Homo sapiens: one gene and its partners. The protein of the gene in region 3 purifies or fractionates together with the protein of the main gene of each other region. This does not show direct contact. Each region holds a gene or a part of one and is shown on either strand. Other genes may lie near its edges.

Region 1 (2,603 bases), on a different chromosome or scaffold from region 3:
AAAGCTGGTTGTATGAGTCTGTTTTTACACTACTATAAAGAAATACCCAAGACTGAGTAATTTACAAATAAAGAAGGTTTAATTAACTCACAGTTCCACATGCCTGGAGAGGCCTCAGGATACTTACAATCATGGCAGAAGGCGAAGGGGAAGCAAGGCATGTCTTACATGGTGGCAGGAGAGAGAGAGCGCACAGGGGAAATGCCAGACACTTATAAAACTATCAGCTCTCATGATAATTCCCTCACTATCTTGAGAATAACATGGGGTAAACTGCCCCCATGACCCAATTACCTTCCACCAAGTCCCTCCCTTGACATGTGAGGATTACAATATGAGGTGAGATTTGAGTGGGCACAGAGAGCCAAACCCTATCACTGATTTAAGCTGAAGAGTGAAGGAAGCCCTTTCTAGGGAGGGATCAAACGAGCTGGGACCTGAATAGGAAGAAGGTACCAGCCATGCAAAGATCTTGGAGAAAAAGGTCCCAGGCACGGGGAGCATCAAGTGGAAAGGCCTTAAGCCAAGAAAGAAGGCTTACATTGCTGGAGTAAAGTCAGAAAGGGGAAAAAGGTAGGTCTTGTCAGAGAGATGGGCAGGAGCTAGATTGTACAGGGCAATGAAGGTCATGGTTAATATAATGCATGTAAGAGACCGAGTGGGGTCTTTTCTGTTTTCCAAGGATTGCCAATTAGGACGAGCTCAGAAAATAATGATGCTTCATCCAAGAATCACCACTGTAGGAGCTGCCAGATTTCCAAAGGACTTGCTCAGAGGATCATTTCTGCAGGACTACTACTATAAACACTGGCCCCATACACACCTCTCTTCCTATCTTATGACAATAAAAGAGAGTGTGTGGCTGCCTTTTGGAGGAGAATTATTTGTAATGGTAATATCTCCTCCTTCCTCACCCCTAAATCTTAGGGAACAGCCCCAGTAGCATCACTCATATAGGTTGTGTGGACCTACAAAAACATAAACAAAAAAAGAGAGATTGAAATTTTTACTGGATTGGACTAAGTCTAAATAATGAAAAGTGGCTGGGTGTGGTGGCTCACGCCTGTAATCCCAGCACTCTGGAAGGCCGAGGTGGGCGGATCACGAGGTCAGGAGATGGAGACCATCCTGGCTAACACGGTGAAACCCCATCTCCACTAAAAATACAAAAAATTAGCCAAGCATGGTGGCGGGTGCCTGTAGTCCCAGCTACTCAGGAGGCTGAGGCAGGAGAATGGCGTGAACCTGGGAGGCAGAGCTTGCAGTGAGCCCAGATCGCACCACTGCACTCCAGCCTAGGTGACACAGCGAGACTACGTCTCCAAAAAAAAAAAAAAAAGTGACTAAAAATGTATCATATGAAAGTAGTCTCACACCCAGTGAGTGCCAATGTTCTTCAAAACCATGTACAAGAACAACTTTAATCCTAATGGTTTCAAAAAAACTGGAAACCAGTCCGAGGTTGTTTCCCAAATGGATAATGTGTGGTATAATTGGACAGTGAATACTACACAGTAATTTAAAAGATATAACTTTTGCCACACGTCGGAGATGAATCTCACAGATACAACACTGAGTGAAAGAAGCCAGATAGAGAAGAAATCAAATATATGACTCCATTTTGGTAAAGTACAAAAGTAAGCAAAACTAAGTTATGCTATAAATTAAAATAGTGGTGACCTTTTGCAGGGAGATAGGGGTTGGCAGGAAGGAAACCTAAAAGTAGCTTCCTAGAGTGGTAGAAAAGTTCTATATCTTGATAGGAGTGGAAAGTAAATAGGGGTAAATGTATGTAAAAATCCATTGAGCCACACTCTTAGTATTTGTGCAGCGGAACCTGGGCATGCTGGCACATGCTTGTACTCCCAGCTACTCAGGAGGCTGAGGTGGGAGGATCATTTGAGCACAGGAGTTTGAGCCTGGGCAACATAGTGAGACCTCATCTCTAAATATATACATAAAGTAAGATATACCTTTAAAAGGAAAATTACAAGACCTTCAAAGAAAAAAATGAGATGTGTTCGATATCCTTACAGAAGCTTGTTTCTCTTAAAGAAAGGGGTTCCACAGAGCCTGTGTGGTTGCAGTTGTTAGAAAAATAAAACGGCTCCCTGTTTATACTATGCTTCATCAAGCACGTGTGACCAGCACCTGCACATACTAAATATTTTGTAATAGCTGCTCTTATCACTGTGATTGCCACTGTTATTTTATGTAGTAAATAAGTTTTCATTCTTAGTTGAGCTGTCATTTACACCTATTATTTCACACTTGAAAAAGGTAAGGAAAACACGAAATGTTAACAAAGACAAGACATGCTTTTGCTTTCACAACATCTTTCTCCTTAAGGTAACTTTCTGGAATTTGAAGTTGTTGATAGGATGAATGGGGAAAACATTTTGGGGACTGGGTTAGGTGTCTGTGTTAGTCCTCAGATTGGTATCTGTGTGTTTTCACAGGTTTCTTCAGTGCTCCGGGGATTCCTAGACTTGATGTTGGTGAGGGAGCCCTCTCAGAGAGCAACAGCCCAGGAACTCCTCGGACATCCATTCTTAAAACTAGCAGGTCCACCGTCTTGCATCGTCCCCCTCATGAGACAATAC
Region 2 (4,027 bases), on a different chromosome or scaffold from region 3:
AGAAGCTAGAATCATGGTGGCCTGTGTAGCGGAAGCCAAAGCCACAGAGAAGCTCCTAGTAGTATGGATCTGATGGGGTGGAGAAGGAGGAGAAATACTCTGGTTTCTCCCTTTTTATCTCCCAGTAGAGACTCCCACTGAGCAAACGTAGCTGGGCGCCGGCTGACATCTGGCCTGGGAAACAGGCCGAATGGGTCAGCTTCCACTCCACAGGAAGACAGCAGAGCAGGGAATGGGTGAGGAAGGAATCTGAGGGCACAGGCCACGAACCAGCCCAGACCCCTCTCCGCCTGTGTGGGCCATCATCATTAATCCAAAAAGACAAAGTGAGCCCCATTCCATGACAAAAGCAAGAACACATGGATTCTTAAAGTGTTAGAATCACAGGAACCTTCATCAGGGCTGTTAGGAGAAAGGCTGTGGTTCTGAGTAGGGCAACTACTTGATGGGGAGGCCAGTGATGCTGCAGACCTTATCAGGTGCCTTTTTCATTGCCCAGGGAGGCGGATAGACAGCTCTCTGTGTTGGCTTGGGTGGGTCCTTTGGATGCTCACAGCAGGACTGATATTAATAACTGGCATCCTTATTGCATTTGTGTCCAGCCTATGCACAACTATGTCAGTTTCCCTACTCAAAATCACAGCCTCACTCCTAATACTCCCTATTCCTCACTCCCCTGCTTGCTTTTCTTCACAGCACTGATCACTATCTGATCCATGATACATTTTATTTGTTCATTAGCCAATAAAACATAAGTTCCATGAGGGCAGAGAATTTTGCTGGTTTTAATCTTTTATCCCATTGCCTAGAAGAGTGCCTGGCACATAGCACTCAAAAAACAGTTTTTGTCGAATTATTTTTAAATTGGGTGATTTCGCTAAGAATCTGGATGTATGGTTTTCCTTAAGAATTTGGCAACACTGTTTCATATATCACTGCATAGCAACAAGTGGCTGGAACTGCCGTTTAGAGATGGGGACCTGAGTTCACTCTCTGATTTGCCTCAGTCCCCACTATGCCTTATAGCCTAAAACAGCCAGCTTCATCCATTTCCATTACCTGCCTGGTTGCTGCAGGTATTCAAATGTGGGACCTCTGATCAGGGCTAAACTGTTCATTCTACATAGAGCTGGGGAAACGGAGATAAGAACAGGTGAAAGGTCTTTGGTTGTCAAAGAGTTCAGATTAGAGTCTAATTGAGGGCTTTCGTGATATGAAGATCATTGTACTAGGTATCAGAACTTGGCCCCCAGGCAATACAGTCCTTTCACAAATGAGGCATCGTATTGGGAGCTCTGTATACAGCTGCACTGTTTAAACTACCTGTCCACCAGGAGATTATAATCTAGCAGCACTCTCCTTGTTTTCAGGGGTGCAGTCCAGTTAGCCCATGTTAGCACTGATATAAATTTGGGGGAAGACAGCAATTATGCTCTTCTCACTCATTCTGTATTCTAGGTACCCAACTCCAGAGGATCTAACTGGCCAAAAGCAATGGTACAGCTCTGGGCCTTTGTGCATGCTCTTCTCTGTTGTGTGCACTCCTACACATCCCTGAGGCCCCAGCTCAGGACACTCCACTGAGGTCCCCATCATAGCCCCCTGGCAGAATTGACTGCCTCTGTGCTCCCTGCGTAGCGCATTTATATCTATTCTGCACAGATCTTGTTCTTTTACACAGTAGTCCCCCTTATCTATAGTAGATACCTTCCAAGCCCCCCAGTGGATACCTGAAACGGTGGACAAAACTGAACCCTGTATCTACTACGTTTTTTCCTATACATACATACCTATGATATAGTTTAACTTTATCAATTAGGCACAGTAAGAGATGAACAACAATAATAAAATAACAGCAATTATAACAATATGCCAGCATTGCTAAGCTTGCACTTTGGGGCCATTACTAAGTAAAATAAGGGTTACTTCAATACCGCCACGGTCGATCCGATCACCAAGCTAGCTACTAAGTGACTAAGGGCGGCTACTAGAGATAGGAGGCTGACCTTGGACAAAGGGGCATTCCGGTCCCAGGAATCAAGATTTCATCCTGCTACGCAGAATGGCCGGAAACTTAAAACTTAGGACTTCTGTATTTCTGGAATTTTCCATTTAATAGTTATGGACAAGAGCTGACCACAGGTAACTGAAATCGCGGATAAAGGGGGCTACTATCCGCAGTTCTCTAGTACTTGGGAGTTTCTTGCGACACTCATTTCTGCAACCGAGTGTCTCTCAACAAATCAAACTGTTCGGAATGTTTGGAATATTTTAAACGAAAGAATGCATTCAACAGGCAGTGCCCAACTCCCCAAGTTGGGATTCTCTCCTTGGATCAGTCTCTCCTGTTTACCCCCCTCCTCTCACCACCGGCTGCAGGGGGACCTCTCACTCCTTTCCTTCCCAGTCCAAATGCTGGGCGGTGGAGAGCCGCACTCGCGACAGACACCAGAACGCACCTTCGATAGCACATTCCTGCCCCACCTGCCCCTCAGCACCCGCTGCAGCCCCGACGAGGGTGGGGGTGGGAGGCAGCAATCCTTCAGGTCCTCGGCAGCCCTGCGGGCCTACCTTGTCCCCTTTGCTTAGGACCTGCCAAGGCCACGTCTCTACGCTTCCGAACAGCGAGTTCTTGATCATGCCCAACATGTTGTAGCCGAGACGCTCCCGACGCACGGGAGGACGTGAGGTGGCGGGGGCGACGGAGCACCACGGGCAGCGACCACCGGCGGCAGGGCGGCAGGGCGGCAGGGCGGCAGGGCGGCAGGGTGGCAGGGCGGCAAGGCGGCGGGACGGCGAGGCGGCGAGGCGAGAGGCGGGGCTAGAGGCAGGGGCCAGAGGGCGTGGCTAGAGGGCGGGGCGGCAATTCAGCCCGGCGGTGAGGCAAGGGGGCGGGACGGCGAGGTGAAGGGGCGGAGAGAGAGGGCGGGGCGGCGAGGCGAGGGGGCGGAGAGAGGGCGGGTCAGTGATGCGAAGGGCGGGCAGCAGGGCAGCAGTGCAGCAGTGCAGCAGTGCGGTGAGGCGAGGGTGCGAGGCGGCTAAGCAAGGGATGGGCCCGCCGTGGCGAGCCGCTGGGCCGTGTTCCGCCTCCTTTCGGGCTTTCCGCGGGTGTCTGGGGAGGGAACCCGGCCGCGGGCCTCAGGCCGTCCCCCTCCGCAGACCCCTTCTCTTATTCTGAGTCTAACCTATCCGCTGGGGCCCTGGAAAGCGATTCTCGCCTGGAGTGGCTTTAGGCAGCGGTGGTGGGGAACGTCCTCTCTCAGGTGCCTGGGCTCCAACCTCCGAGCCCCGGGTTGCTCACGCTTCTCCGGTCCTCTACCCGAAGGCTCGATCCCGCTGGTACAGCGGCGGCCAGGCTCCCTGTCTTGGTAGCTGTCCCTCTACCCCCGCCCCATGACCTCTTCTAGACCATTGAAAGAGCATCCAAACCACTTTCCTGCTGCCACTCTTTCCTACCATCCCTCTAAATCACAGTTTCCAGGTGACTTTTCTAAGCATGGCTTTTCTCGTTCACTCCTGTTCAAAAATCTTCTCACCAATTTTGTCACCATTTACTCAGCTGAGTGCCTGCTTTCTGTCAAGTATTTTACCAATAAATCTCTACTCCACACCACCGACAAGAAATATTTTGGAGCCATTTAAAAAGGAGGAAACGGAAGCTTCTGCCGCTGCCTGATCCTCCATTGCTCCGAGCCGCGCGGGTGCAGCGGGCTGTGGAGCCGCGGGCCGAGCCCCGCCGGAGCGCCCGAGAGCCCGCGCGTCCCGGGCGTCCGTCGGGGTCCGAGGTCCCTCCCTCAGGGAGTCCCCGCTCGGCAGCGCTCTCGCGTTTCACGCAGCGGCCGGGGATCTGGGACAGGCGGGGCCCCGAGGCCGAGCCTGGCGCTGCCCAGCGGCCGGTGCAGGCCTCAAGCTGGGCCGGGCGGAGGGGAACCGGCGAGTTGAAGCCCCGGGGCCGAAAGCCGGAGCCTGTGGCGGCCGCGGGGGTGGGGAGGGGGGTGGGGCGGCTTCTTGGGCAGCGCCACACGGC
Region 3 (3,013 bases):
GCTCCTCGGTGTGACTTGCTCCCAAGTTCAGGGCAGGTCCATCTGATTGGCTGAGTCTGGAATATCTGCCTGTGCCTCAGCTGTGAGGGAGGCAGGGAAAGTAAGCCTTTTCAGCTTCTGTCGTGGGAGGTGGGCTCTGCCTCCTACCAAGAATCAAAGGGTGGAGGATCTTCAAACACAGGAAAAGAACCCGGATCCTGGCACCCCCAAATTTTCAGAGTCCATTTCAGAGCATAAGAAATTGAGGGTCCAAGATCATTCATGTAAGAAGTTTAGAGGGGGAAGAAAAGAATGATAAACGAAAAGAACAGCAATAGTAAAGGATCTTTTCTTTGTTTCAGTAAGATGAAGAGGCCTGAGCAGTTTCGTGGAGGGGAAGAAACAGGAAAACCTCTTCAAAAGACAAAAAGCTGGCACTGCATTCTCTCTCTGTAGCAGGACAGAACTGTCTAAAGACAAGACCCCTTTGGCCAAAATAAAGGAACCTGAAACATTACTAATGACCCTTCAAAAGCTTCAGTTGTTTGTTTCCTTTAATTAACATCTAAATAGATTATACATCTTCTATAATTATAATATGGAAATGTATATGAGCAAAATATATAAATTTTTTGGTGACTGCTTAGGGAAGAATGATGTCAGTGAAGTTCATCCAAGGTCTTAAGCAGCAGCATCTATGCAGCCAGGGCGTGGTCAGCGTTTGGGGACAGAGGTAAATATCCGCAATCCATGCATCTCTTTGATTTCTTCTTTTAGTGCCTAAGTAAGAAAACAGCATCATCAGTTTTTGTGTATTTGACGTTGATTACAGTAATTCTCTGAGAGTATTTTTATACAGCTCTGCATCTGAAGGAGACTTTGTATGTGCTTTGTTTAAGCAATTTTTCCTTTTTTTGAAAAACAATTTTTTTTAAATCAATAATATCTAACATGATTTAAAGATTCAAAGGTACAAAAAGGCATTCAGGGAAGTCTCCCTCCTATACCTGTCCATCTCCCCAGTTTCCACCCTTGTTCCCAAAAGAACTGTTGTTAGTTTCTTGTGTATCTTTTTTTTTTTTTTTTTTTAAGTCATGGTCTCGCTCTAGCGCCGAAGTTGGAGTGCAGTGGCGCGATATCGGCTTACTGCAAACTCCACCTCCTGGGCTCAAACAATCTTCCTGCTTCAGCCTCCCTAGTAGCTGGGACTACAGGCACATGCCACCATGCCTGGCTAATTTTTTTATTTTTTGTAGAGGCAGGGTCTCACTATATTGCCTAGGCTGGTCTTGAACTCCTGGACTGGAGCAATCTGCCTGTCTTGGCTTCCCAAAGTGCCGGAATTACAAGCGTGAGCCACTGCACCTGGCCAGTTTCTTGTGTATCTTTACAGGGACTTAAAAATGCATATTCACCAGGCATATTCAAGCTAATATATTTCACCCCATGACCTTTTAAAACGCAAATGGTTAAAATTTCAAACACATTACACCAAGCTTGTCCAACCCACGGCCCATGACAGCTTTGAATGTGGCCTAATATAAATTCGTAAACTTTCATAAAACATTTTGAGATTTTTTTTGAAATTTTTTTTAAAGCTCATCAGCTATCATTAGTGTTAGTATATTTTATGTGTGGCCCAAGAGAATTCTTCTTCCATTGTGGCCCAAGGAAGCCAAAGGACTGGACACCCCTGCTCTACACTTTGCTCTTCCCCCAAACATCTATCTTGGAGATCTTTCTATGTTAGGCATATATGGGTGTCCTGATTCTTTTTTGCATCAGCATAGTATTCCATTATATGAATGCATTATAACTTTTCAACCTGTCCCCTAGCGAACTTTTAGGCTGTTTCCTGTGTTTTGTTATTTCGAGCATCAAGCATTCTTTAAAATGAGCAGTTCTTTAAAATCATACCAATTAGCACAAATTCCCCAATGGTCAGAGCAGGAAATAAAGTTTCAAAGGAATTATGGGACTTGTTTTAAGGCTACAAATGGTGTCAGAGCCCAAATCTGAAGGAACTACCAGAGTCAAATAGATATTTGGCCCCTGTAGTGCTGGGAGAAAGTGAGGTTACAGAATCAGAGTGGGGCTTGGACCGCTCAAGTTTATAATCAGTACAGAGGAAGAAATAAGGTCCTTTTATACTAGGCCAAAATCTGATAATCATACTAGAGTGGACATTTTTCTTTTCTAGTCTCTTTAGTGATCTCCTTCTCTTGGGGAATAATTCCTTTTCCACTCTATTGTATAATTCTGGTGGAACCACCAATTGGTCTGATATTGAGGTCATTATGTGCCACTGGCCCAGCCTATGATTGGACCGAGGTGGCACATGACCCAAATTGGGCCACTTAGAATCTCCCTTGGGATTTCTGAGAGTGGAGCCTTGTTTCTTGGGCCAACATGCTATGAAATTAATTGGAGGTGGCCATGGACTGTGTTTCCCACCAAGGAGAGAAAGCCCATCTTTAGCAGGAGAAAAGGAGACCAACACAGGGAAAGAAGCTGAAAGCTCAGAGAGAGAGAGGAATCTAGATATGCCAGAAACCAGATAATTTTGTTACATGGGCCAATTAATTCCCTTTGTTTGCTTATGCTAATTTTAATTTGGTCTCTGTCTCTTACAATATAAAGAATCCTAATATATGTGGTCAGGTTTATAGATCCTTAGACACAATCTAGTCCCATCCCCTTATTTAATTAAAAAAAAAAAATAGAGTCTACTCCTTGTCCAAAGTCAGCAAACAAGCGAGTAATGGAATCAGGATATGAACCCAGGTATCCTGAGGTCCTGGCCATACCTGGTTTCCATCATGTTCCTGACTTGCCCTGATCCGGGAGCTCCTGTTGTGTTGGGGGACAATGAGCTGCCCCACTTGGCCTACACTGCACACCCTCCAGCTCCACAATCAAGTGCAGGGCCCTCAACTCTGCGGACAGGCAGAAATGTCCCTGGAAAAAGCCTCATATAATCACTGGGCGAAGGTCCCTGGGCCACTTGCTCTCTGCAGGCGTGGAATGCTCCCTA
Region 4 (3,500 bases), on a different chromosome or scaffold from region 3:
CCACCTCGGCCTCCCAAAGTGCTGGGATTACACAGGTGAGCCACCACGCCTGGCCAGTGCACTACATTCTTGAACTCCTACACTCAAGGAATCCTCCTGCCTCAGTCTCCTGAGTAGCTGGGACAACAGGCTTGTGTTAACACACCCGACCACATTTGATCTTTTACAAAATTTTCTTAAGCTGATAAGCAACTTCAGCAAAGTCTCAGGATACAAAATCAATGCACAAAAATCACAAGCATTCTTATACACCAATAACAGACAAACAGAGAGTCAAATCATGAGTGAACTCCCATTCACAATTGCTTCAAAGAGAATAAAATACTTAGGAATCCAACTTAAAAAGGACGTGAAGGACCTCTTCAAGGAGAACTACAAACCACTGCTCAATGAAATAAAAAAGGATACAAACAAATGGAAGAACATTCCATGCTCATGGGTAGGAAGAATCAATATCGTGAAAATGGCCATACTGCCCAAGGTAATTTATAGATTCAATGCCATCCCCATCAAGCTACCAATGACTTTCTTCACAGAATTGGAAAAAACTACTTTAAAGTTCATATGGAACCAAAAAAAAAACCCGCATCGCCAAGTCAATCCTAAGCCAAAAGAACAAAGCTGGAGGCATCACGCTACTTGACTTCAAACTATACTACAAGGCTACAGTAACCAAAACAGCATGGTACTGGTACCAAAACAGAGATATAGATCAATGGAACAGAACAGAGCCCTCAGAAATAACGCCGCATATCTACAACTATCTGATCTTTGACAAACCTGACAAAAACAAGCAATGGGGAAAGGATTCTCTATTTAATAAATGGTGCTGGGAAAACTGGCTAGCCATATGCAGAAAGCTGAAAGTGGATCCCTTCCTTACACCTTATACCAAAATTAATTCAAGATGGATTAAAGACTTAAACGTTAGACCTAAAACCATAAAAACCCTAGAAGAAAACCTAGGCATTACCATTCAGGACATAGGCATGGGAAAGGACTTCATGTCTAAAACACCAAAAGCAATGGCAACAGAAGCCAAAATTGACAAATGGGATCTAATTAAACTAAAGAGCTTCTGCACAGCAAAAGAAACTACCATCAGAGTGAACAGGCAACCTACAAAATGGGAGAAAATTTTCACAACCTACTCATCTGACAAAGGGCTAATATCCAGAATCTACAATGAACTCAAACAAATTTACAAGAAAAAAACAAACAACCCCATCAAAAAGTGGGCAAAGGACATGAACAGACACTTCTCAAAAGAAGACATTTATGCAGCCAAAAGACACATGAAAAAATGCTCGTCATCACTGGCCATCAGAGAAATGCAAATCAAAACCACAATGAGATACCATCTCACACCAGTTAGAATGGCAATCATTAAAAAGTCAGGAAACAACAGGTGCTGGAGAGGATGTGGAGAAATAGGAACACTTTTACACTGGTGGTGGGACTGTAAACTAGTTCAACCATTGTGGAAGTCAGTGTGGCGATTCCTCAGGGATCTAGAACTAGAAATACCATTTGACCCAGCCATCCCATTACTGGGTATATACCCAAAGGACTACAAATCATGCTGCTATAAAGACACATGCACACGTATGTTTACTGTGGCACTATTCACAATAGCAAAGACTTGGAACCAACCCAAATGTCCAACAGTGATAGACTGGATTAAGAAAATGTGGCACATATACACCATGGAATACTATGCAGCCATAAAAAATGATGAGTTCATGTCCTTTGTAGGGACATGGATGAAATTGGAAATCATCATTCTCAGTAAACTATCGCAAGGACAAAAAACCAAACACCACATGTTCTCACTCATAGATGGGAATTGAACAATGAGAACACATGGACACAGGAAGGGAACATCACACTCTGGGGACTGTTGTGGGGCGGGGGGAGGGGGGAGGGATAGCATTAGGAGATATACCTAATGCTAAATGATGAGTTAATGGGTGCAGCACACCAGCATGGCACATGTATACATATGTAACTAAGCTGCACATTGTGCACATGTACCCTAAAACTTAAAGTATAATAATAATAATAATAATAAAAGAAATTTCACTATACTTTTTCTTTGTTTAGGTACGTTTACACAAATACTTACCATTGTGTCAGAACTGTGCACAGTATTCAGCACAGTCACGTGCAGTACAGGTTTGTAGCCTAGGAGCAACAGGTTATATTATCTAGCTGAGGCATATGGTAGGCTCTACCATCTAGGTTTGTGTAAGTACACCCCAGGATATTTGTCCAATGTCACATTTCTCAGACCGTCTAGGTTTGTCTAAGTACACCCCAGGATATTTGTCTAACGTCACATTTCTCAGAATGTATCTCCAATGTTAAGTGATGTATGACTGTATCTGCATTATACTTACTGCTTGAGCATCCCAAATCCAAAAAGCTCCAATGAGCATTTCCTCTGAGTGTCATGTCAGCACCCACTTTTAAAGTTTTGAATTTGGGAGCATTTCAGATTTCAGATTTTTGGATTGGAATGCTCAACTCGTACTTATTTGACACAGATATAAAACTACTGCTTACACAAAAACTGTTGGTTCACTGTGAGGTTTAAGGCTGGTTCACTTTTTGGACACAACGATGATCTTTCATAGTTAAAACAAGCTTATATAATAATTTATCAATTAGTTACTAAGAGCAGTCTCTGGAAAGAATTTTACTAGGCCACTTATTATGACCTTAAACTATTTAACCCCTCTGTGCCTCAGTTTCTTCATCAGAAAAACAGGGATAATATGGTACCACCCACATTCAGCATTGTGTATAAATCAGTTAATACATGAAATTCCATCAAACAACACCTACACACACAGTGAGCATTATTTACATAATTCCTGCTACTATCCTTATTTTTTACTTTGTGCTGTGCAAGGCTAATAATTTTAGGCAAAACAATGTGCCCAAAAAATGTTTGTTAAAAACTCACCATCTTGAATAACTTCTTCATCAGAATCTCCTTTTGTCTTTGTATATTCTAGAGTATAAGAAAGGCCATTACAGCCCCTGGTTCGGACACCAACTTTTACACCTACCTGAAAAAGAAGTGAAAATATAAACTTGGTTTTAAAGTAGTACAGATTAAACAATTATACTAATAAAGTGACAGTAGCCTCCTCGTACCAAAATGGACTTTCTCTTATTTTTTGTAGGACAGGGTCTCACTATGTAGCCCAGACTGGTCTCAAACTCGTGGACTCAAATAACGCTTCCACCTCGGCCTCTCAAAGCATTGGGATTACAAGGCAGGAGCCACCCCGTCCAGCCTGGGACTTTATTTAAAATGTCTTTGCTCTACCTTGTTCTGTGAGATATCCTCTGAATGTTTCCTTATGGTTAGGATTCACCAGGGTTCATAGTCCACCATCTGGCAATCCTACCTCTACATGGGATCTGAATTATAGTGCAGACTTGTGTACAGTCTCAAATACCAGAAAGCAAAAGACTGCAGTCAATACAGA
Region 5 (3,500 bases), on a different chromosome or scaffold from region 3:
CTGTCTTAAGTTCTCAGCTTACTGTTATCACTATTATTAGCTAATATTTATTGGGTACTTGCCACTTGCCATACACCATACCAGATTTATGATGTGCATTTCATTAATACTCACATCAACTCTTTGAACTCAATACTATCATAATTCCTATTTTAAAGTTGGTGAAACTGAGGCCTGGAGAGATTAAATAAATTGGCCAGGGTTATAGAGTGTAACCTGTAAAACCAGGATTTGAACTCGGGTTTAGAGAACTCCAAAGCTCTAGTCCCACTTAGACATCACTTTTCCAAGCATGGAATTGGTTCTCCTTTTATGAGCTCCTAAAACGCTATAAACTTCCTTTTATATATATCATACCACGTGATAATTGCCTGTTTACCGTTCTGTATCTCCCACTATTATGTAACCTGTCAGGGCTAGGATCATGTCTGTATTGGTCAACATTTTGTCACCAAGGCCTTGTATACAATAGGCATGTAGCAAATATTTTGTTGAACAAGTGTTCTCATTATTTTAGATTAACCTTAATTCTCCCTCCTTATGACATATTTGGTGTTTCACAAGCATTCCCAATCAGTAAGGTCCCAAAAGTTCTATTATGAACGTAGGTGGTTTATAGCTGTTTCTTCTTCTCCCTTTCCCTGTCCCTGCCTCTTTCTATTGTTATTGTTGTTTTGTTTGTTTTTATAAAAATCTTGAGAAATTCCTTCTTAATCAAAACATCGTGTTTCATTTAATGACTTTTCTTCCTTGGAATTCAAGAAAGTATTCCTGTGAAAGCCCAGTGTTTGCCTGAATGGGGCCTCAAAGATTAATAAAACACAGGCCCTGTGTGCAGGAAGCCTAAGTTTTAGTGAAGGAAACTGTATTTACAGAAAGTCAGTAAATAATGTTAATTGTCTAATAATGTTGTATCTTTAGATTTTGAGTATTTTTTATGTTTAATACTTTAAAGAAAAATAAGCCGTTAGAGGCCTATCAAATTTTACATGACTCCAACTTACTTTTTAGGGAAAAAATGCAACTTCTCTGTTTGTTTGTTTTTAGAGACAGGGTCTCACTCTGTCACCTAGGCTGAAGTGCAGTGGCATGATCATAGCTCACTGCAGCCTTGAACTTCTGGGCTCAACAATCCTCCTGCTTCAGCCTCCCAAAGGGCTGGGATTACAGGCACGAGCCACTGTGCCTGGCCAAAAGTCAATGTTTAAATGTCAAATAATGTAAACAAATAATCTAAAAGATGATGTAGGAGAAATAACAGGGTGTGAGGATTGAATTTTTTAAATTAAAACTTTTGTGTAGATAATTAATGCCTACAGTGCCAAAATCAAAAGGTACAAAAGGATATGCAGTGAAAGTGGGTGTTGCCCTTCTACGCCCACTCTTGCACCTGCCTAACCAGTTCTCCTCCTTAGAGGCAACTACTAATGCCAATTTCTTGAGTTTCTGTCCAAAGGTTCTTAGTACCTAATGAATGATTAACTGACAAAACTTAACTTAAGCAAAATTGCAAAATATATCCTGTTTTGCAAAAGGCCCTTTTGCCCCTTTACTTTTTTTTTAAATTTATTTGTCATGTACCCTGTTGACTAGGATTGCTCCTTTTTAACAGCTATTTTATCCTTTCCCAGGTACCAAGTGTTAGTATGTGGGGTAATTTTGTCTTGGAGAAAACCACACAAATGCATTCTTACAAAGTGATAATAGCTTTAATTATTGTTTCCTTGAGCTTTTGCATTTGTAGGGGCCTCTTCAGGAAGAAGTCAATGCTTAGCACCAGGTAATAAATCCCAAAAGTGGAATTAGGCATCAAATGGGGGAATGGGGACATAAATGGAAGGGATGGGGAATATAATTTGGATAGATGTTCCCCTTTTATTAGGGTACTTAGTAGGACCTATATATTTTGGTTCTGGGTTTATTCTCTGGTTAGGAAAAAGCCTAAATATGTTCATCCTGGAGGCAAGTGAACATCAAGATAATGTCTAATAGCTATAGCTAACAAATGCCAAGTTTTTGAATGTGTGTGAATCCTAAAAGGTGGTATTATTAACCCTATTCAAAAGATAAGGAAACTGAGGCTCAGGTAACTGAGGTTAAGTGACTTGTCCAAAGTCATACACAGTAATAAGTTGCAGAAATGAGGTTTTTATGAAAATCTGAAGGTCATTTTTTGCATGAAGTGCTTGTTGCCAGTTGCGGTTAATCCTAACATAACATTAAATCTATGTAGAATAACTACTTAAATCCCATTTTACACATTAGTGATATGCAATCTAACTCGAACACTAAGTGAATTATTTTACTTCCCTTCTCTCGTAAATGAGAATATGTTGTTTTCACTTTAGTTTAAAAATAACAATTCAGTCATTTATATAACCCCCTAAATGGCCTAGGCACAGTTTGTGCGTAATTGTATCTTATTTACCAGCATAGTGGATGATTGCATTTTTAAATGCATAAATTTCCTCAAACTTCTGTTTAGTTTCAAGTGAGAAAGCTGCCCCAAACCATAATTAGAAATTATTCTGACACCAAGATGGAAAGTGAATGTGCTGGAGGCTCTTCACATGGCAGCAGATTAACAGTTCTTGATAAATCATCACCGCCAACTAGTTAGAACAACTGCTCCTTTTCAGGATTTTTTTTTTATTGTTTTGACTCTTCTACATGGCCTTGGCAGTAACGTTTGGAAATTGATGTGTCCCAGAGACTGGGATGCATCCAATAATGTAGTCTCTTCCTGTGCAGCTGATCTTGAAAGCCTTGAAAATAAGGAACAAAATGACTAGGGAGTGACTTCTATTAGATACTATTAGCTGAAAATGAGCTTTCTGCAGAGATTCTTAGACTCATTAGAGAACCATTATAAGACTAAGAAGGCAGGGCTAGATCCCTTGTAATTCAGATATGCTGGAAAATTGCCTTTGCATGTATTTGAATTCTTATTAAGCTCAGATTTCTTCAAAATTAGTTTTTATTATAATAATGGTAGGTATCCATCCATTAATATAAACCACAAAAACAGAAAAATCTACTTACAACTTTTCAACAAACAGATTTACCTTCCACTGCCTTTGTGTCATAAGTAAATTGTTTGTGGCATCTTATGATTCTCAATATAAATTTGGAGGTGCATGTTTTAAAAATGAGTGCTAGTTATTAATTTTATGGGCTTTTGCTACTAAAATCTGTAACCATTTCAGAAAGCCTCATTTTTTGACTGGAGATCTGGATATGTGTAGTGTTCCTTCCTGCTTATCAAGGGAGTACCATAATTAAAGAGAAAATGACTAAAACCTTAATAAGAGAGAAAAAAGTTTCATTTATATCTTATACAGAACATAGTGCAGTATTTATTTCAGGTTGTCCATAAATATTTACTTACATAACTGAATCCTCTGAACTTCCATCAAAATATTCCCCTGACCTTTGAAGTTAGCTTCCATCACTTCCCCTAAACTGATATTAGATATTAAATCTGTCAGACATCTCAGGCT
Region 6 (3,500 bases), on a different chromosome or scaffold from region 3:
TAGGAAGCCCCCCAGGAATAGACCCTGGTTGTGAGGCTGTCTGAGGAGGCCTTTTGTCTCCCGGTAGGAGCACGTTTGCCGTGGACGGGAAAGATTGCAAGGTGAATAAAGAAGTGGAGCGTGTCCTGAAGGAGTTCCACCAGGCCGGGAAGCCCATCGGGTGTGTACAGCCGTGCAGGCCTCGGGGAGGGAGGGAGGAGGGTGCGTGGGCCCGCGGCCTCTGTTCTCAGCCAGGAGCTGCCGCTGATCCTGAAAACTCACAGCTGCTTTTCTTGTTTTAACTGAGGGGATTTCACACGATGTCACTGGTGACTTAACAGGAAGGAGAGGCACAGTGCACTTCCCTAGAGGAGGCCTGGAATTCTCTTGGCTCCCAGAGGTGTCCCTAGGCAGTCCCTCAGGACCCCTATCCTTTACCAGACCCCTTCTCCCAAGCCCCTTAGCCACAGTACCCCCAACCCCGCTGACTTCTGGCCAGTCACTGCAGCACGTGCTCCATCCCTGACGCCATCCACTCCCAGCGGCCTCCCTCCTGGGGAGCCACAGCCAACCACGCCCCTTTGTCCCTGCTCAGACAAAGCCTGGGTCCTGAGGTTGGCGGCACGAGTAGGGCGCCCACTCCTTCATCCACGTAAGCGCCTTGGCTTACGTGGCGGGTCGCAGCCCCGCAGGGAGTGTGTGCTCTTCAGCGTCTGCTGCCGGGAAGTCACTCTCAGATGTGTGAGGGTGACCCAGCAAGGCCGGGTTCCGCCTCGGCAGGTGTGATGCTTCCACGAGCCTCCCGGCACCTGCTCCTTGGTGGTCCTGGAACGCGGCGCTGTGCTGTCCAGGTCTCAGCTGCGTCTGGTGCTGGCAGGGCGAGAGCCGCACTTGCGTGGGTGAACATCAGTGAGGCGCACTCGCGATGGCCGCTCACTACCGAGTTCTGTCAGCCGAACAAGGATGAGGATCTATCGGAATCCTCTGTCTCCCCATCCACAGTCACTCACTTAAGGACCTGCCTGGTCACTGTCCAGGGAGGCCCCTAAAGTGGAGCCTCAGGAAGAGGTGCAGGCTCAGAGCTCCTGAAGGAGGTCCCTGCTGCAGCCGTGTCACAGCCGGGGTGAAGGTTTCGCCCATGGTCTCCACCTCGGGATCCCGTCCTTGTCAGAGAAGTGTTCCTTGGATGAGCGCCCAGAGGGAGGAGCCCATGGCCCTTTCTTCTGTGACTGATTAAAAATCTCGATGAAACAAGACAGCCCCTGGCAGGTGAACCACTGCCTCTGAGCATGCCTCCCCTGAAAACAGTGTGGGGCGCAAGCCCATCTCCTCCCCAATCCAGCCATGAGGCTCCCCTGGAAACAGCACAGGGCGCAAGCCTGTCTCCTCCCCGGTCCAGCCATGAGGCTCCCCTGAAAACTGCAGGGCACAAGCCCGTCTGCTCCCCGGTCCAGCCATGGGGCTTCCGTGCACGGTGACCCACAGGCTTTTTTCCTGAGGAAACCTAAATCCTTTCCCACTGGCCCCACCCACCCCTCAGCCTGGTGTCAGAGGCCTGCGTGGCCAGCCAGGGGCTGTTAGGCGGCCCAGCCGCTCACTGCTGGGACCCCTTCCTTGAATGCAGTAGTCGAGGTGGGCGCTGGGCTGTGCCAGGAGCCACTGTGGCATCTGTAGCTGGCAGTTGATGGCTGGGCGGCTGCACGCAGCGTCGGGAGCTGCTGAGAACCTGCTTCCTGGACTTTCTGCCTGCGCAGAGGGCGGCAGGGGGGTTTCATCTCATAGGCAGCCAGAAGTTGCTTCAGGACATGCAGTTTTGGGGGCGGGTTTGTTTTGAGAGTATCGCTCTGTTGCCCAGGCTGGAGTGATCTTGGCTCACTGCAACCTCCGCCTCCCGGGGTCAAGCAATTCTCCTGCCTCAGCCTCCCAAGTAGCTGGGATTACAGGTGTCTGCCACCAGGCCGAACTTTTGTAATTTTAATAGAGACAAGTTTTCGCCATGTTAGTCAGGCTGGTCTCGAACTCCCGACCTCAGGTGTTCTGCCTGCCTCAGCTGCCCAAAGTGCTGGGATTACAGGCATGAGCCACTGCACCTGGCTGTGAAATGTGTTTTTAACAGTGTTTCGTTACAGCTCACGGTAGCAGTTTCCACCTGGGCCTGTCGGGAGTGGGTAGGACTGTAGACAGCGGGAGGAGGGATGAAGGGTGCGGGGTGTTGAGGGCAGGGTGGGGCCTGACAGCTGTGGGCTACACCACAGGTTGCCAGGGGATGGGGCTGCTGTTAATGAGGCCGTACTCCTTCCACTGTTGCCCCTGGGTGGCCATGAGGCGCTGGACGACACAGGTCACTGAAGGCCCTGCTGTGGGCACAGTGCCTGGCACACAGGGGCCTCTGTTGACTTGGCAGGGAGGGGTTCCTGATGAAGCAGAAGCAGGTCCCAGGGGTGGGTGTGGCAGGACCCTCAGTTTCAGGGCTGCTGCGGCCTGTGCGTCAGGGTCAGGGGCGTGCGTCCACCAGCCTGCACTTGTTGAGAGTTGTGCTGCAGGTCGGAGGCTGGCGAGGCTGCTCCTGGCCCGTTGTGCCTCCTGTAGAAGGGGGGCTGGTGTGAATGAGAAGTGCAGCTGTGTTATCTATTGCTGGGTCACAGACCACCCCACAACTCAGGGCTGGGGCAGCCGCACATCATTACCCTCTCTGTGAGTGGACTTTGGCAGCCCGGGACTCTCGCCAGTCTGGGGTGTCCTGGGGCTTGGGGCTTAGCCCATGGCTGTTGGGGGTTCCCCTCAGGGGTCCTTGGCCTGGTGCTTGAGTGCCTGCAGGGCGTGCTTGGCGGGGAGTGGGGCTGAGGACACCTCACTCTCAGCCTTGAGTCACCTGGTGCCACCTCCATCACATCCCATGGGCCACAGCCTTCTGGCAGCGCAGGCTCACAGGGGGCAGGGTCGGCAGGGCTCCCGTGGCAGGGCAGCCTGGGGTCATGGCGAGGGTAATTTCTGTTCTGCAGGCCATGCAGCCTGCCTGACCCGTGTTCTTTTCGCCTTTCAGCTTGTGCTGCATTGCACCTGTCCTCGCGGCCAAGGTGCTCAGAGGCGTCGAGGTGACTGTGGGCCACGAGCAGGAGGAAGGTGGCAAGTGGCCTTATGCCGGGACCGCAGAGGCCATCAAGGCCCTGGGTGCCAAGCACTGCGTGAAGGAAGTGGTCATATCCTTCCTGGTAGCCAGGCCCGGCCCGCTGTCGTGCTTGTCCCTGAGACGTGCATAGGGACGCCCCTCCCTCCGGGCTGTCTTGGTGGGTGGCCTCTTCACCGGGAGCTGCACCTGCTGCTCTCCCTGTGGGGCCTCCCCCAGTGGGCACCGCAGCCATGTGTCTAAGGGCAGAGAGCAGATGGCTGTGACAGCCCAGCTGGTGTGAGGTGGGTCACAGACACGTCAGAAGCGCAGCTCTGGTGCGTGGTTGGCAGATCTGGCAGATCCAGGTCCCTTGCCTGACTGTTTAGTCTGCTCAGCAACACCCAGGCAGCCA
Region 7 (3,500 bases), on a different chromosome or scaffold from region 3:
AAAATACGCCATACAAATACATGATATGAACTCTTGCCTTCTAACCTTAAACCTATTTTACACATAAAAGCAAGGTGCATTTCTGCCTTTAGGGTACACAGTCATTTTATTTTCACAAGAGTGGGGAGGATCCTATATAACTTTGGATGTCCAACTTTTAAATCTAGAGAAACCTTTCCCATTGTTAGTCTTCTTTATGTATTTATTACAGAAAAAAAGATCCTATGGCTAAATAAGCTTAAGGAAAACAGATTTAAAGATTAACCAGCTTTCTTTATGAAGGGCATCTCAGATTTTTTTAATATGCTGATGTACATATAGTACTCTCAAGAAGTGATGCAATAAATAAGGATTCCAAAATTTTTAGACCCTACTCATCCCTCCCTACCCATTGCCCCTGCCTGCCCAAACACAAACTGCATATTGGGTGTTCTGGGGAACATGCCTCAAGAAGCTCTGGTCTAGAGTTCAGTGTCTGTGTTCCTACCTGGGTAAGGAGTCTTCCTCGATTGCTCCCTATCCCTCAGTCCCCACACCCATTCTATCTGTAGGTCTTATCACAGTTGCCTTCAAACCAGGAGGCCTCCACCCACTTCTCTCCACCCGGTTCTAACTCCGGAGCCAGCCCACCAAGGCTATTATCCCAGGCTCCCCAACCCCAGGACTCACCTGCTCGGCAGCCACGTTGTCCAGGAGGATGAAGAAGTCCACTTTATCACTACTGTCAATGCCCATCCTGTCCTTCACCTTTTTCAAATCCTCTGAGATTCCTGGCTGTAAAGAGGCAGTCTGCCTCCGGCCTCTGACAAAAAATAAAAAGTAAAGCCTTATATTCTATAGTGATTAACAGTTTACAAAGTGTGCTTCACACTTGGGTTATCATTTGGGATATCATTTAATCCCCACAACCCAATGGGGTTAGCTGGTATTATCCCAATTTTATAGATGAATAAACTAAGGCTCTATAAGGTCAAATGACTTATAACGTTAAGTTAGCAAGTACCAGGGTTAGGATAACAGGATGAAATTTTCCAAATCTCACTCTAGCATTTGCATTGCATCAAAAATGATGCAAGCATGGCCCAGGTCTGTCTGAAAACAGCATTTTCTTTTCTTTACGGAATAAATACCATATAGTCTTAGTGCAGCCTAGAGATACCTGAAAAGTGTCATCAGCCCAAACCGATCTATCTTACATAGAAACATATTGGTAAGAGAAGAAAAATCTGTGTCTTGTTGGGCTTGTACAACTGGATTTGCCGGTTAAAGACAGTCTCAATCATCTTTTATTTAACCTGTTGGTTTTCTCATTTGCCCCACCTGAGAGACCGGGGTTGTCAGAAGGATCATACTTTGTAAATGGCAAAGGCCCACTCGTGGCTGTATGTATCATCTCGCTAGCCCAGTGTGCGGCTCTTCCCAGAATTCCTGGCCTTCACCATGGGTCTGTCATTGTGAACAAGACTTCTTCGCTTCCTAGACAGCTGATGTCACACTTAAGTGTAATTTAAACCTTCCCATCCATTATTCGCCAGTAGGGTAAGCCTGGACAGGCCCTCAGTATAGACAGAGTTCTGCCAGCAAAGGTTGTAAAAGGTTGTCCCCAACTGGTGAGCAAGAACCCAGGGGCAGTTACCTGGTTCTCTGCCTCAGGCTCCAGCAGCTTTGGTAGTTGGGATACAAGACTTCTGAATCTGCTTCATCAGTGTGGATGATGATGGGTCCTGGAAGAAAGGGAGGAAGCACAGGCAGGCAGAGGCTTCAGCTTGTTCTTCCCAGCATCTCCACCCCCTTCTCTTTGTCTACAGAGATGGAGCAGAGATCTGCTCTGAGAGGCAGATCATCAAGGTTACTCCTTAAGGACAGAAAATGCCTTCAACATGCCCTGGCCCTGCCAAAGGAGGCTCTCCTATAATCTGAGCAATGAAAAAAGTTAGTGGCAGCAGCCTTGTTCTGTCTAGCGCAAGCCCTCCTATCGGGCCACAAATAGACTAGAGCAGGTAATAGACCTGAAACAGACTGGCAACTCCCTGACACCTTCCAAAAAATCCCTGCTGTAAAGCACTACCAGCATTTGGGCATTCTAATAAATAATAGTGTTATCAGAACTAAGTTGCTTCCTGAAGCCTGATCCTATAGGCCACTATGGTGACTTATCACATAACAAACTGAGAAAAGTGGACACAAGGCCACAGATCCTCTCAGAGACCCCATAGCCTTGCCCAAAATAAAAAGCCAGGCTTTTAGATGAATTGCTGGTCTAACCAAAGATCTAACCAAAGAAACTACAATGTTTCTCATATATCTCATGGCAGCTCATTGCTATTCAGACCCCCTCAGTACCATTGTCCCCTCCCGTCAATGCCCAAAGAAAGTGTCCTAACGCCTTCCCATGCTTTGCTCTGTGTCAGAGATGGCAAGTGCCATCTCTGTGTGGTAGGTTCTTTTTCCACACTGCTCAAGCCTGATGGCAAAAGAAGGAGCTCCCCAGCAGCAATTTGGGATTCACTGAGGTCCATCTACAGAGTGATCAGCTGAATCAAAGTCCCAAAGGGGTATTTATTCCCAAATTATTGATAGTCAGAACCAAGGGCTTTAAAAATAGCCTATAACTTTACTAGAATATCAGAATTCACACACACATCGTTGGTCTGGACAGAAGAAGAAACCACACTGAAAGTCATGAGTTTAGTCTTCAGTCCAGAACTAACCAGCAGTCGCCCTGGGAAGTCACTACCATTCTCTGGGGTTCATCTGTAAATCAAAGGGGTAGGACTATATCAGCCACAGAACCTCCTCCAACCTACGGCTATTATGTAAAGTATAATAATAAAAGAAGAGGTGCTGATGGCTGCAAGGTGGAGATCGAAAGCATAGTCCACTTGCATGTCCCATCCCCTCCTTTTCTGTGCTTCCTCAGACCCCTCTGAAGAATCCTGGGGTTCTGCAAGATTTGTTGTGAAAAGGAAAAACCAAATGATCCGATGCCGCCTCCAGATATACATGTCCTCAAATAAACAGTTGAGCATAAAAGGAAAAAGTAGGATTCTGAACCAAGACTGCCAGAGTTTGAATCCTAATTCCACCATTTACCAGTTTTGTGTCCCTGGGCAAGTCACTGAGCCTCTCTGTGTCTTGGTTCTCTTATCTGTAAAAGGGGATAATGACACCTATCTTATAGGGTTACTACAAGAATTAAACAAGTTAATATATGCGAAGTTCTTAGAACAAAGTTTGCTGCATACAATTGGTCCTCCATGTCCTTGGATTCTACATCTATGGATTCAATCAACCATGGATTAACAATATTTGAGTAAAAAAGAACAATACAAAATAACACAATAAAAATAACATAAATTAGAAAATAGTACAGGGTAATACACAGCATTTACATTGTATTGGGTATTATGTCATCTACAGATGATTTGAAGTACATGGGAGGATGGGCATAGGTTATATGCAAAGCTATGCCATTTTATAAAAGGGACTTGAGCATCTGT

Evidence for each region.
Region 1: the proteins of BOLA3 (region 3) and PAK5 purify together in Homo sapiens (co-immunoprecipitation; one large-scale study listed by IntAct). This does not show direct contact.
Region 2: the proteins of BOLA3 (region 3) and HEBP1 fractionate together in Homo sapiens (co-fractionation; one large-scale study listed by BioGRID). This does not show direct contact.
Region 4: the proteins of BOLA3 (region 3) and ISCA1 purify together in Homo sapiens (affinity purification with mass spectrometry; one large-scale study listed by BioGRID and IntAct). This does not show direct contact.
Region 5: the proteins of BOLA3 (region 3) and DDAH1 purify together in Homo sapiens (affinity purification with mass spectrometry; one large-scale study listed by BioGRID and IntAct). This does not show direct contact.
Region 6: the proteins of BOLA3 (region 3) and GATD3 purify together in Homo sapiens (co-immunoprecipitation; one large-scale study listed by IntAct). This does not show direct contact.
Region 7: the proteins of BOLA3 (region 3) and ACP6 purify together in Homo sapiens (affinity purification with mass spectrometry; one large-scale study listed by BioGRID and IntAct). This does not show direct contact.

Annotation. Positions count from the first base shown.
Region 1 is NC_000020.11:9,539,474-9,542,076, reverse strand, and holds part of PAK5 (serine/threonine-protein kinase PAK 5), read left to right. Parts: intron 1-2,459; coding exon 2,460-2,603.
Region 2 is NC_000012.12:12,997,466-13,001,492, forward strand, and holds the start of HEBP1 (heme-binding protein 1), read right to left. Parts: upstream 2,801-4,027; 5' UTR 2,650-2,800; coding exon 2,572-2,649; intron 1-2,571.
Region 3 is NC_000002.12:74,134,900-74,137,912, forward strand, and holds the end of BOLA3 (bolA-like protein 3), read right to left. Parts: intron 760-3,013; coding exon 694-759; coding exon of another isoform or gene 623-693; 3' UTR 501-622; downstream 1-500. UniProt on the Homo sapiens protein: Acts as a mitochondrial iron-sulfur (Fe-S) cluster assembly factor that facilitates (Fe-S) cluster insertion into a subset of mitochondrial proteins. Probably acts together with NFU1.
Region 4 is NC_000009.12:86,269,039-86,272,538, forward strand, and holds part of ISCA1 (iron-sulfur cluster assembly 1 homolog, mitochondrial precursor), read right to left. Parts: intron 3,075-3,500; coding exon 2,969-3,074; intron 1-2,968. UniProt on the Homo sapiens protein: Involved in the maturation of mitochondrial 4Fe-4S proteins functioning late in the iron-sulfur cluster assembly pathway. Probably involved in the binding of an intermediate of Fe/S cluster assembly.
Region 5 is NC_000001.11:85,458,660-85,462,159, reverse strand, and holds part of DDAH1 (N(G),N(G)-dimethylarginine dimethylaminohydrolase 1), read left to right. Parts: intron 1-3,500. UniProt on the Homo sapiens protein: Hydrolyzes N(G),N(G)-dimethyl-L-arginine (ADMA) and N(G)-monomethyl-L-arginine (MMA) which act as inhibitors of NOS. Has therefore a role in the regulation of nitric oxide generation.
Region 6 is NC_000021.9:44,140,183-44,143,682, forward strand, and holds part of GATD3 (glutamine amidotransferase-like class 1 domain-containing protein 3, mitochondrial isoform 1 precursor), read left to right. Parts: intron 1-67; coding exon 68-160; intron 161-759; coding exon of another isoform or gene 760-892; exon of another isoform or gene 893-981; coding exon of another isoform or gene 982-1,216; exon of another isoform or gene 1,217-1,233; intron 1,234-3,022; coding exon 3,023-3,179; intron 3,180-3,500.
Region 7 is NC_000001.11:147,653,525-147,657,024, forward strand, and holds part of ACP6 (lysophosphatidic acid phosphatase type 6), read right to left. Parts: intron 3,149-3,500; exon of another isoform or gene 3,094-3,148; intron 1,725-3,093; coding exon 1,637-1,724; intron 803-1,636; coding exon 670-802; intron 1-669. UniProt on the Homo sapiens protein: Hydrolyzes lysophosphatidic acid (LPA) containing a medium length fatty acid chain to the corresponding monoacylglycerol.